3 separate regions of the Homo sapiens genome follow, and all the other regions are reported to be linked to region 2. Evidence: microRNA targets listed by miRTarBase, many of them from high-throughput screens and not tested one by one. Region 2 holds a microRNA gene; each other region holds the end of a gene's coding sequence.
What was found. The annotated mature microRNA hsa-miR-3165 reads AGGUGGAUGCAAUGUGACCUCA and lies in region 2 at 1,646-1,667, shown strand. An mRNA with a match to its seed (bases 2 to 7 or 8) in the 3' UTR can be bound and repressed. Matches are read on the target gene's strand: a 7mer-m8 pairs with bases 2 to 8, a 7mer-A1 pairs with bases 2 to 7 and ends in A, and an 8mer does both.

Region 1: miRTarBase lists EFNB1 as a target of hsa-miR-3165. Seed matches in the 3' UTR shown: 7mer-m8 at 1,682-1,688.
Region 3: the mRNA of GARIN1A is a reported target of hsa-miR-3165. Seed matches in the 3' UTR shown: 7mer-A1 at 3,326-3,332, 7mer-m8 at 2,613-2,619 and 7mer-m8 at 1,477-1,483.

The regions. Positions count from the first base shown.
Region 1 is chrX:68,840,228-68,844,227 of GRCh38, forward strand. It overlaps EFNB1 (ephrin B1), which reads left to right. Exons shown (of 5, transcript NM_004429.5): 5 at 15-1,933. The coding sequence ends at 427. Among named protein-coding and RNA genes, the nearest start is that of EFNB1, 13 kb to the left of the region's middle.
Region 2 is chr11:72,069,602-72,073,938 of GRCh38, reverse strand. It overlaps MIR3165 (microRNA 3165), which reads left to right and starts at 1,637; the gene lies at 1,637-1,711. It overlaps NUMA1 (nuclear mitotic apparatus protein 1), which reads left to right. Exons shown (of 27, transcript NM_006185.4): 2 at 4,028-4,097.
Region 3 is chr7:128,682,286-128,686,622 of GRCh38, reverse strand. GARIN1A (golgi associated RAB2 interactor 1A) reads right to left here. Exons shown (of 5, transcript NM_001128926.4): 5 at 1-3,659. The coding sequence ends at 3,464. Among named protein-coding and RNA genes, the nearest start is that of GARIN1A, 12 kb to the right of the region's middle.

The DNA of each region.
Region 1 (4,000 bases), not on the chromosome of region 2:
TTTCCCTTCCTCAGAGACTGTGAACCAGGAAGAGAAGAGTGGCCCAGGTGCAAGTGGGGGCAGCAGCGGGGACCCTGATGGCTTCTTCAACTCCAAGGTGGCATTGTTCGCGGCTGTCGGTGCCGGTTGCGTCATCTTCCTGCTCATCATCATCTTCCTGACGGTCCTACTACTGAAGCTACGCAAGCGGCACCGCAAGCACACACAGCAGCGGGCGGCTGCCCTCTCGCTCAGTACCCTGGCCAGTCCCAAGGGGGGCAGTGGCACAGCGGGCACCGAGCCCAGCGACATCATCATTCCCTTACGGACTACAGAGAACAACTACTGCCCCCACTATGAGAAGGTGAGTGGGGACTACGGGCACCCTGTCTACATCGTCCAAGAGATGCCGCCCCAGAGCCCGGCGAACATCTACTACAAGGTCTGAGTGCCCGGCACGGCCTCAGGCCCCCGAGGGACAGTCGGCCTGGACCGGACCTCTCCTTTCGCCCCCACACCCCCTCCCCTTGCCAGCTGTGCCCACCTTTGTATTTAGTTTTGTAGTTTCTTGGCTTTTATAATCCCCCTTTTTCCCTGCCCCCTGGGCTTCGGAGGGGGGTGCTTGTGCCCCTAACCCCCATGCTCTTGTGCCTTCCCCCTCTGGCCAGGCCTCTGGGCTCCGTGGGGGCGCCCCTTCTTGGAAGGCAGGGCTGGACACTGATGGACAGCAGGCAGGGAGACAGTCCCCTGGCCCTGCCCCTCCCTCGCCCCCCTTGCCACCTTCCCAGGACTGCTTGTCCGCTATCATCACTGTTTTTAATGCTTTTGTGTTCATTTTTTAGCTGTCAACTCATTTTCATCTGTTTTTTGAAGAAAAATGGAAAAATGTAAAAGGCAGCCCCTCCCCAGGCTTTGTGAGCCTGGCCCAAGCCAGTACAAGAGGGCCTGGGGCACGATGTGGTCAGCCAGGAAGCATAGGATGCCATTTCTTTTATAGATTCCTTGGTATTTCTGGTGGGGTAAGGGGCAGGCCAGGGCTGTTCACGCCCATGAGGGAAGAGGAAAGTGCCACTGGGCAAGGTGTCCCACCCTCCCCTCCTGACCCTCCTACGAGGCTTATCCTGGCAATGGGGTAGTCACTGCCACCCTTCCACACACACACACACACACACACACACAAAAAAAAATCCCTTCCTTGTGGGATTCTTGGGCATCTCCTGCCTCCCTCACTCTCACGGTAATTAATGTCTTAATTGGCTGTTGCCTGGGGAACAGGAGAGCTGCTGCAGGCAGATGACCTCATGGGGGGTGGAGGGAGGTGAGGTGCCCAGGTGGCTATTTGCCCTGCAGAGCTGGGAGTTTCACCCCCACCCCCCACCCTGTTCTCTCCTTACCTTTGGCATCCTTTGGCCTGGTGGGGAAACAGAGGCCCAGGGTGGAGACCTAAGCGGGTATAAGACCAGGTGGCCTGCTCCTTTTCTGGGCCCTAGCACAGGTGGGTAACCCCCACCCAACCCAGCTCCTGCTGCTGTCCCAGTCTTGGGCTGGGGCCTGGAAAGAGGAAGAGGCTGCCTGGGGCTGGGCCAGCCCGCTGTGCACTTTGACCCCAGTTCCTTGCCAGCACGGCTGCTAACAGACTGCCACTTGAGTGCGCCTTGCAGGCACTCCCAGAGCAGCCATGGAAGGAGCTGGCCCTCACACCATCCACCTCCACACTGCCTCCTGGCCAGCTGCCCACCCCAGTGCCAGGTGGGAGAGGGAGCAGAACAGCCAGCCCCTTCCAGGTGGCAGTCGGAAGGGTTTTTGTTTTTGTTTCTGTTGCCATTTGTGTAAATACTAGTCTTTTTGGAAAAAAAATAATGTAAAGATGTTTTGTATAAACTCTGAATTATTTTCTTGTTGCTTTTTTCTTAGAAAAAAATGAGAACTAAAAAAAAAAAATTAACCACATGGAGAAATGGGTGTAAAATGGTGTCGTGATGTTGGGAAATGGAGAGTGAGAGTTGTGTGCGTGCGTGTGTGGTGGGGGTGTGTGTGTGTGCGCTTTCCTGTGCTCAAACCACTGGTGACTGGGGCAGGTACGGGCAGATGATGGCTATCCTAGTGGAGCAAGATGTTTTAATGCCCTATGACCCTCCTGCCACTCCCCTCACCCCAGGTTTTTCTGCTCTCTTGTTCTGCTGTCATGGAGCCTGAGACCATTTCCCCTGTTCATCCTGTCACCTCTGTGGCATAGGCCACGGGCATCTGCCCAGTCTGGCACAGGCCCAGTTAGAGAGGGTTAATGGAGGAGGGGATGTTCCCATGGGGACCTGGGTGTGTCCACAAAGTACTGCCACCACCTAGCTGGGGCTAGATCTGGGACCTGCTGGCAGGCCCAGCCCTGCCCTGCCTCAGGACGCCTGGAGGTGGATAGAAATAACTTCCCAAGATCTGAACTTCAGCTGCAGCCTACTGGGTATTGGGCCTGCTTCAGGCTGCCCAGTTCACCTCTCAGCCAGAAGAATCTTGCTTCTGAGCTGGGCCACACCACAGCCACCACCATGGCATAGTTGGGGGCTTCTGGCCAGCAGTCGATACCCTCAAGCTAGAGCAGCCTTGAGCACCCGGTCTACCTCCCACAGGCTGATGAGTAACTTGCTCAAGTCAAAGAGTGTGGTGAGGGCCCTGAAGAGGGTTTGGCCTCCATCCCACAGCGGAGAGGCAGACTGGCAGGGCCTGGAGCCTTCCTGCTCCAGCCTGGAGCCGCCTGCTGGTCTTGTGGGGGGACTCCCTGTGGAGACGGCTAAGACAGATGTCAGGGGAAGAGGACAAGTGAGATCCAGCAGCTAAAAATGGGGTAGAAGGCAGCAGAGGAAAGAGGAAGAAGAAGGAGAGAGAGAGTGATCCAGAGTAGGAAGCCCCAGAGAATTAGCCAAGGTGCCACCCGGGCTATGAGGGAAGTGGGGAGCTGGTGGAGAAGAAAGGGGGCGGAAAGCCACAGGGCCTGCAGGCGGAGGGAAGGAAGGTTGGGCTAGTGTAGGGCTGGGCCTGGCTGGGGTGCTCCTGGAGCCAGCTGGGGCAGAGGCTGTTTATTTGGTTTCTCATTAACCAAAGGAAGTGCCTGGATCAGATGGAGCCTCTGCTGCTTGACTGCCTGCCCAGAGTGGGGCCCGGCCTGGGCTGGGGGTCTCTCATCAGGGTTGGTTCAGGCCAGATTGGTGTCGCTCACTGGGGTAGAGCCTGACTCAGTTGAGTGAGCACTTCCCGCACTTCTCCAACTGAGTTTCCTCCAGTAGTCCCCCACCCAGTCCACGCCTTCAACCCTCCCAGTGGGGGATGGAGCACTGGGGGCCCCCTGGGAGCAGCTGTGGGAGTGTGAAGTAAAATCCAAGGGAGATTTTACAAAGGAAAGTGGGGCAATCTGCTGGTTAGCCCAGAAGCTTCGCAACTGGCTGTTCCCTTGCCCTAGCATGGGTGCCATGGCTGGTGCTGGTTTGAGCTTGGTGCTCACACTGTTGGTCACACAGTGTGCTTAGTAGTTCCTTGTGTCCTTCATCTGGACAGCACCTGCCAGTTTGTTCAAATGCTTTTACACACTTTGTTTCATTGAATCTCACAAACTGCCCTGTGAGGGTGGTAGGTGGGGAATTACCTGACTTATATTTGAGATGAGGAAACCGAGACCCTGTGAGGGGCTGTAACTTGCCCAAGGACACACATCAGGTGAACAGGAGCACTAGGATACAAGTGCAGGCCTTTTATTACACCACGAGCAAATAAGAGGTATTCCTTGAGAGCGAGGGGTATGACTTCCCACTTCTTGCCTTTGAGCAAGCATGCTTCCTTGGGGATCTTAAAAAACAGGAGCCCTCCCCACCTCCACCCCCCATTCCCTTTCCATCTATCTTGGTCAGGGAGGGACCAAGCTCAGCTAGCTGGAGGCAGGAGGTGGGAGCCTCCAGTGGTAGGGCCCCAGACTGCCCCACCCTTGACTCTCCTTCCTGTCCCAGCTGGGCCTAAGCTCCTGGTGAGTCAGGGA
Region 2 (4,337 bases):
ATTACAGGCCTGATCCACCGCAGCCAGCCTCGGAAGCTACTTCTTAAAGCTCTGTGAGCTAAGTTCTATTATTACTATTCTCTTTTACAGGGAAGGCAACTGAGGCACAGGTAGATTAATCTCCCCAAAGCCACACAGTTTATAAGTGGTGGAGTTGACATCCTAATCCAAGCATTCTGGGTTCTACATCCCACATTCTGAACTTCTACAACATGCTGAAATTTCTTCCCTGTGGCAAACCAAAATCAGTCTTCCTGTAACTTCCACTCATTAGTTCTGGTTTTGTATTCTTATAGTGGACTCATAAGTCTTTCTCCTCATCTATGTGAAAGCTATGCGTATATTTGAAAAAAGTTTTCTTGTTCTCCCCTGGCTAAAAGTGTGTAGTTCTTCCTCCATATTTGAAATGATATACTTCTAGACCCTTTGCCATGGTCATTGGTGTTCTTCCTCTGCAAGTCCTCTAACTTTGCTCTTCAAAGGTGGGGCATAGAGTCATCTTCTACTAATGCAGCTTAAGACTGCATTGATGTTTTGGGTAGCTCTGTCAGATTCATGGTTTACTGAGAGTGTGCTTAATAATGGCCTCTCCTCTACCTCCTACTGTGGGCAACTTTTTTTTTTTTTTTTTTGAGACAGGGTCTCGCTCTGTCACCCAGGCTGGAGTGCAGTGGCTGTCTTCCCACCTCAGCCTCCTAAGTAGTGTAGCTGGGACTACACCCGGCTAATTTTTTTGATTTTTAGTAGAGACAAGGTCTTGCTGTGTTGCTCAGGCTAGTCTTGAACACCTGAGCTCAAGCAATCCTCCTGCCTCGGCCTCGCAAAGTGCTAGGTTTATGGGTGTAAGCCATTGTGCCTGGCCTAGGCAGCTTTTTTTTTTTTTTTTTTTTGAGACGGAGTCTCGCTCTGTGTCACCCAGGCTTGAGTGCAGTGGCGCGATCTCGGCTCACTGCAAGCTCCGCCTCCCAGGTTCACGCCATTCTCCTGCCTCAGCCTCCCCTCCCGAGTAGCTGGGACTACAGGCACCCGCCACCGCGCCCAGCTAATTTTTTGTATCTTTAGTAGAGACGGGGTTTCACCGTGGTCTCTATCTCCTGACAGTGTGATCCGCCCGCCTTGGCCTCCCAAAGTGCTGGGATTACAGGCGTGAGCCACCGTGCCTGGCCAGGGGAATAGTTTTGACAATTCCTCTGGCAAATTGGAGGAGGAGCTGTCTAGAAAGGCCAGTATCTTGGGTCTCATTGAGGGGAGGAGAGAACCAAGGTAAAGGGTTGGCTATTAGGTAATCAGTCGCGGTAATAAGGGGCCATTTGGCAGAAGTAAAAATGAGGTATCTGATGGCTGTAGAAGGGAGAGAAGGCATTATTGCATAGCATGCTCCTGGGTTGAGGCCTCTGTTGGCAGCTGTGTCGCCTGCCCTTTCTGTCCTATTGAAGGGCCAGTTTCTTTGAAGTCTGCACAGGAAATACCAGTGATTCAGCCTTGCAGATTTCTTCTGCCTTATTGCAGCTGAGGACTGGTTTATCTGGTGAGGAGGAAAGACTGCATATATTTCAGGCATGTTTATTTGATACTTGAGTGCCTTCCTGTGACTGGCCAGAGACACTTGTTTTGCAGATTGTCAAATTTTTGGTACCCGGTGGCAAGGTGGATGCAATGTGACCTCAACTCTTGGTCCTCTGAGGTCACATTGTATCCACCTTACCACTGGGTACTAACGTGTGGGCAGCAGCTGCATTCTGCCTAGCGAGTGGGCATTTGTTCAGTGCCTGTACTTCTGTGATGGCCTCAATGAGGAGTGAGGTAATTGCCTGCTTTTCTAGATTTCCTGTGGTGTGACAATGTGAGTTTTGGAGAAACCTCTTATTCCCTAAGAATTTCCTACTATACCCCTCATGAGCTGCAGCAAAGTGGACTCTGTCTGATTGCTGACCTCCAAATGCCCAGTTTCCTTAGGTAGTGAGCAGATACCTAAAGTAATGAGTGCCTATTATATCTGTCACAGAGCTGAGTATATAAAAAAGTATATAATACAGGATTTCCCTCCTTACTAAATTATTTTATTTTGAAAATTTTCAAACCTATAGATATTTTGCAAAATAATGTAACAAATACTTATATACTTCTCATTTAGAGTCACTATTAACATTTTGCCAAATTTGCTGTCTATTTATCCTTCATTTTCTGAATCTTTTTGACTGTTAGATGTAAATATCATGTTATTTAATCCCTATTTCAGCAAGTATTTCCTAAGAAAAAGGTATCTTCCTATATAACTACAGTACTATTAACACTCAGGAAACTTAACATTGATTCAATACATCCAGTATATAATACTTGTTCAGATTTCTCATCTTTTCCCAGTGATGTCTTTTATTGAGTTTTTTAAAATTCAGGATTCATTGAAGGATCATGCATGTATTTATGCACTTAGTTGTCATGACTATCATGTCTTTAGTCTGCTTTAACTTTGAACAGTTCTTTTTTAATCTGAATGCCTTTTTGTCTTTCATAGCATTTGTCTGATTCTTCTTGATTAGATTCAGGTTAGGCATTTTTGGTAGAAGAACTATATAGATTAATACAATAGTTTGATTGATGAGGCTGACACTAAAATACATAGAAGCAGTATCTGATTTTGCAAGACAGTATATAATTTAGCACTTATTTGTGTTGTCTAATCTATAAACCCTATAGGAATTTACAGAAGAAGGAATTCAGTAGGACTTGGATAACTAGGAATGAAATACTTTGGCAGAAAGATGGGGTTTGGAAAATGAACAGAATTGGAGGCAGTTGGGATATGGTTAGATAAGCTGTGATTTGGGCTTCCCATCCTACTATTAAGGTTGTGTATCATGAAAAGTGACTTTGAGGGTTCTGTATCTTCCATGGTGTTTGCACTGCTAGAAGCCTAATGGTGTAGAGCTCTTGCTTTGGCATCAGACAGGTCTAGAGACTGTGCCCAGCATTTTGCCAGTTACCTAACCTTGGGGAAGTTTTCTCATTTGCAAGATAGAGTATTAATAACTATTTAAAAGGTTATCGTGATGCTCACAGTGAGACACTACATAAATATTTGAATTAAAATATTTGAATGCCTTTAGGGGGGTGCAGCGTTTCCTAGATCTGCCATGTGCCCCACTGGATCATTCATTTTGTTTTGTTTGGATACGTGGTTTCGCTCTGTTGCCCAGGCTGGAGTCCAGTGGCACGGTCTCAGCTCACTGCAGCCTCCCAAGTGGGTGGGACCCAGGCACACTCCACCACACCTAGCTAATTTTTTGTATTTTTGTAGAGACGGAGTTTTACTATGTTGCCCAGGTTGGTCTGGAACTCCTGAGCTCAAGCGATCTGCCCACCTTGGCTTCCCAAAGTGCTGGGATTACCGCTGTGAGCCACTGGGCCTTGCCTGGATAATTTGTTTCTGTTACCTGCCTGACCCCTGAAGATGTTTGAATTTACCACTCCTGGATAATTGAAAGCAGGGAAATGAGAAAAGGCTTGGCTCACGCAGAGAGAAGTGGGAAGACTGGCTTGATCAATTCAGAGTATATTCTGTAGAATAGTGGGAAATAAGGTTGAATAAATGACTTGAGGCCATATAATGGAGGATTTGGAAAGTTAAGCCAAAGAATTTAGATATGATGCTTTAGGGAGAAGAAAACTGGAAGATTTTTGAGCAGGAGGAGAGACACTTGAAAATGAGAGTGGTGTGGGGCCTCCTGAGGAAGAAGTTTTCTGGCTTAAAGACTGAAATCCTAACAGGGCAGGGCCTTCACAGTGCTGACCAAGTGTGGGTGTGGCTTGGCAGTCTTGCCACAGAAGGCCAGAATTTCTGCCCCAGTGACTCTTCCTGCTCTGCCACTGACTCACCCCGTTGACCTGGCCTGCATGGCTTCCCTTCTGCTTGCTGTCTGATCCACAGAACGCTGGGGTTGCCCAGGATAATGTGAGGCTGAGCTCACTAAGAGTGGGTGGGTTAGGGGAATGAATAATCATTCCTGTCCCTTTGCCCCTTCCCTAGGTGGAAACTAATTCTAAGCCAGACTGCTGGAGATCACCCTGTTCTAGTGTGTGGAGGCTTCCACCAGGAGGTAAGTCAAAATGGTTTCTGCCCTCTAGTTTTTCATAGGTCAGCTTTGTCCTGAGCAGGATCTCTACCATTTACTTTTTCCCTGACCCAGATTCTTCAAAGTGATTGTCTTTGTCTTTCAATTATTTGAGGCAAACAGGTTACTGTAGGAGGAGAGCAGAGAGGTTTAATAAAGATATTTTTCTAACTGTGGGAGGGTGGTGTCCAGAGGTTTTCATTGGCCCTTGCTCTGAGGTAGATT
Region 3 (4,337 bases), not on the chromosome of region 2:
ATTACAGGTATGAGCCACCGTGCCTGGTCCTTTCTGTCAGATTTATGTGTCAAAAAGTTGCTCTGTTAGAGGTATGAAAAGGGAATGAGTTGGGAAGACATTGGAGAGGCATCAAGAGTAATTTGGATTTTGGAGTTAGACAGACTGGCTTCAAGTCCTGGCTCTGCTACTTACTACCTGTGTGACCTTAAGCAAGTTCTTGAACCTCTCTGTGGCTCCGGTTTATCATTTATAAAATGTAATAATAAGATCTACTTCTCAATGGCTTGTGGTGTGGTTTATGTGATCTTTGTAAAGTCAGCATAGTGCTTAGAAGATAGCAAATTTCTAAAGATGTTAGCTATTATGATGATGATGATGATAAAGTCTGGGAGACCAATTGGGGTTACTATTTTACTTTATTTTATTTTGAGACGGAATCTGGCTCTGTCGCCCAGGCTGGAGTGCGGTGGCGCCATCTCTGCTCACTGTAACCTCCACCTCCCAGGTTCAAGAGATTCTTCTGTCTCAGCCTCCCGAGTAGCTGGGACTACAGGTGTGCGCCACCATGCCCAGCTAATTTTTGTATTTTTAGTAGAGATGGGGTTTCACCATATTGGCCAGGCTGGTCTCAAACTTCTGACCTCGTGATCTGCCCGCCTCAGCCTCCCAAAGTGCTGGGATTACAGGCCTGAGCCACCATGCCTGGCCTGGGGTTACTATTAATACAATAGTCTAGGTGAGGGCTGATGAAGGCTTAAACCAAGACAAAGAAGTGGGGATGACAAGCCTTTCAATGTTTATAAGTATGCCATATAGATAGGATGGCCACATGATTTGTGATTCACTGAGGGACACTTCTCAGAGTGAAATGGGTATGTATTAATAATGATACCAGGACAACAGGCATGCATTTGGAAGTACAATCACCCTGCACATTAGTCTTTTCTAAGTTCAGCTTCTAGATGTCCCTCACCAGCACCAACAATGCTCAGCTTATTTGATTGTAACATACTGAAAGGAAACTTGTTTTTAATTTTACTGGAGGCAAGACAAAACCAACAAGCATCAGGCATCCTCTTAACTCAGATGTCTTTTCTGACTCAATTCAGCCAGATTTGACTGCTCAGCCCAACTGAGCATGCACAAGAGGAGGGCAACCATGTTCTTTCTTTCTGCACCACATAGGATGTGAACCACACATGCTGGAAAGCAGGGCCTCCAGCTTTCATTTGCAGACTGGGTGGCTCAGACATCAGGTCAACATTAATGGCTTCACTATGTCTCCAAAATAGGACTTGGCATCTCTCCCAGACCCTCCCTCAAGGCAGGTAACTTGTCCGTCTGTCTTGTTCTCTCCAATATACTTAGCGTCAAACGCAGTGTCTAGCACCTAGCAGGAGCCTGACAAATACTTATTAAATATTGGAGTGGGCGTGGTGGGGCTGGGCGTGGTGGCTCATGCCTGTAATCCCAGCACTTTGGGAGGCCGAGGAGGGTGGATAACCTGAGGTCAGGAGATCAAAACCAGCCTGGCCAACATGGAGAAACCCTGTGTCTGCTAAAAATACAAAAATTAGCCGGACTGGTGGTTCACACCTGTAATCCCAGCTACTTGGGAGGCTGAGGCACAAGAATCGCTTGAACCTGAGAGGTGGAGGTTGCAGTGAGCTGAGATCACACCACTGCACTCCAGCCTAGGCAACAGAACAAGACTGTCTCAAAAAAAAAAAAAAAGGAGTCATGGTATTTTCCTTGTAAGTATTCCCTATGTGTATAAAGGTTGGCCAAAGCTCCTACCCCATTCCCAATACTCAAAGATGCCATGTCTTCCAGTTCACTTTCATTAGGTTCTGGGTAAGAAACAGTCAAATTAATCAGAATTTCTGGTGATGGGCAGTCAATATCTTCCTCACCATGTTTTCATTAGCAATGAAATGTTGTATGAGCCAGGGGAGCCTTCATAGCTTTACACTAACACAGGGCAATGAAGACCTAATTTATTCTTTTTTTTTTTTTTTTTTTTTTTGAGATGGAGTCTGGCTCTGTCACCCAGGCTGGAGCACAGTGGCATGATCCCAGCTCACTGCAAGCTCTGCCTCCTGGTTCAAGCAATTCTCCTGCCTCAACCTCCTGAGTAGCTGGGACTACAGGTGTGCACCACCACATCCAGCTAATTTTTGTATTTTGGGTAGAGACAGGGCTTTGCCATGTTGGCCAGGCTGGTCTCGAAGTCCTGACCTCAAGTGATCTGCACACCTTAGCCTCCCAAAGTGCTGGGATTACAGGCAAGAGCCACCGCGCCCAGCCAAAGACTCAATTTCTTGCTTGATATAGTGGAGCAACACAAAGGAATCTTCCAGCTGGTTACCATCCTTCTCAGGATTTCTTTTATTTTGGGCTTGCAGTAGCTCAACCTCTATTTCCCCCTGCCCCTTTGAAAGTTGATTTCTCCTCAGAGGCCCTTTCCAAGCCAGCCTTGGACTGGCTTTCTTGGCTTTGCTTGGCTATTGTGTGGTTTCAACTGAGCAGACTGATATATGATTTGGATCTGTCTCCCTGCCCAAATCTCATGTTGAATTTAATCCCCAGTGTTGGAGGAGGTGCCTGGTGGGAGGTGATTGGATCATGGGGGTGGATTTCCTCCTTGCTGTTCTCATGATAGTGAGTTCTCACGAGATTTGGTTGTTTAAAAGTGCATAGCACCTCCCACTTCTTTCTTTCTCCTGCTCCAGACTCGTAGGACAGGTCTGCTTCTCTTTTGCCTTCTGCCTTGATTGTAAGTTTCCTGAGGCCTCCCCAGTCATGCTTCCTGTACAGCCTGGGGAACCATGAGCCAATTAAACCTCTTTTCTTTATAAATTACCCAGACTCGAGGCTGGGCCTGGTGGCTCACGCCTGTAATCCTAACCCTTTGAGAGGCCAATGTGACTGGATGGCCTGAGCTCAGGAGCTGGAGACCAGCCTGGGCAACGTGGTGAAACCCCATCTCTACTAAAATATAAAAACTTAGCCAGGTGTAGTGTGTGCCTGTAGTCCCAGCTACTTGGGAGGCTGAGGCTGGAGAATTGCTTGAACCCAGGAGGTGGAGGTTGCAGTGAGCCATGATCGCACCACTGTACTCCAGCCTGGAGACAGAGCAAGACTCTATCTCCAAAATAAATAAATAAATAAATAAATAAATAAATAAAATTACCCAGTCTCAGGTAGTTCTCTGTACACACAGACAGTAACTTTTCCCACCTATTTTTCCAAAAACTGCTCCTGTTCTCAGTCAGTCCTTTCCCAAACTGGAGCCTCCCTATAGCCCAACCTGCAAAAATTAGGGACTCACTTGGAAGTTTATTGGTGGAAGTAGAGAAGCACCTTGTTGGAAACACCATCTTACCTCTCCCAAGGTCACTTGGCTCACAGTGGAAAAGGAGCATTATAAGAGGTGGTAGCAAGTACACGTATGCAAGGAAGAGCATGTTTTGCCTAGGTGTCAGGCTCCCAAGAAGTGCTCTCCTAGGTAACTGGCTATATGAACTTGTAGAAGGTGCTCATTCCAGTCCTCTTGTTCCCAGAGGCTGTGGCTCAAGGCAGCTCTCATGGGTATATTCAAATTGATTGGAGATGCCACTGGAGAGGGTATCTTGTAGCTGCTGCAGTTGTCTATTTCAATGGCAGTGTCATTGTTCCTGTAGGAGCCCAGGGAATTTTGGGGTTATTGAAAGCAATAGAAGAAAAAGAAAACATTGTTAAAATTTAACTTAAAAACCACTTTCAGCTGGGTGCAGTGGCTCACACCTGTAATCCTAGCACTTTGGGAGGCCGAGGTGGGCGGATCACTTGAGGTCAGGAGTTCAAGACCAGCCTGGCCAACATGGTGAAACCCCGTCTGTACTAAAAATACAAAAATTAGCCAGGCATGTGGCACACGCCTGTAATTCCAGCTACTCGGGAGGCTGAGGCATGAGAATTGCTTGAACCCAGGAGGCGGAGCTTGCAGTGAGCAGAGATGGCACCACTTCCAGCCTACGTGACAGAGTGAGACTCCTTCTCAAAAAACAACACAAAACAAAAAAAACCAACTCACTTTCTAATCATGCCTTTTTCCAGCTCCAGTGCTTTAAGGACATGTAGAAATATGGAAATGTGGGGCAGTGACAATATGCACACATGCAATAATGTTAAGGGCAACCCGAGGAGAGAAAGCCACAGAGGAGGAGGAGGGAGCCTGGAGCTAAGGCCTGCCCTGTGGAGGAACAAACAACTCTTCAAACCTTAAGTACTGCTTTGATGTGTTGAGAATATAATGTATTATGACTCAAAGACAAAATCCCGGGGACTAAAAATTTAAGATCAGAGAAGTGAGA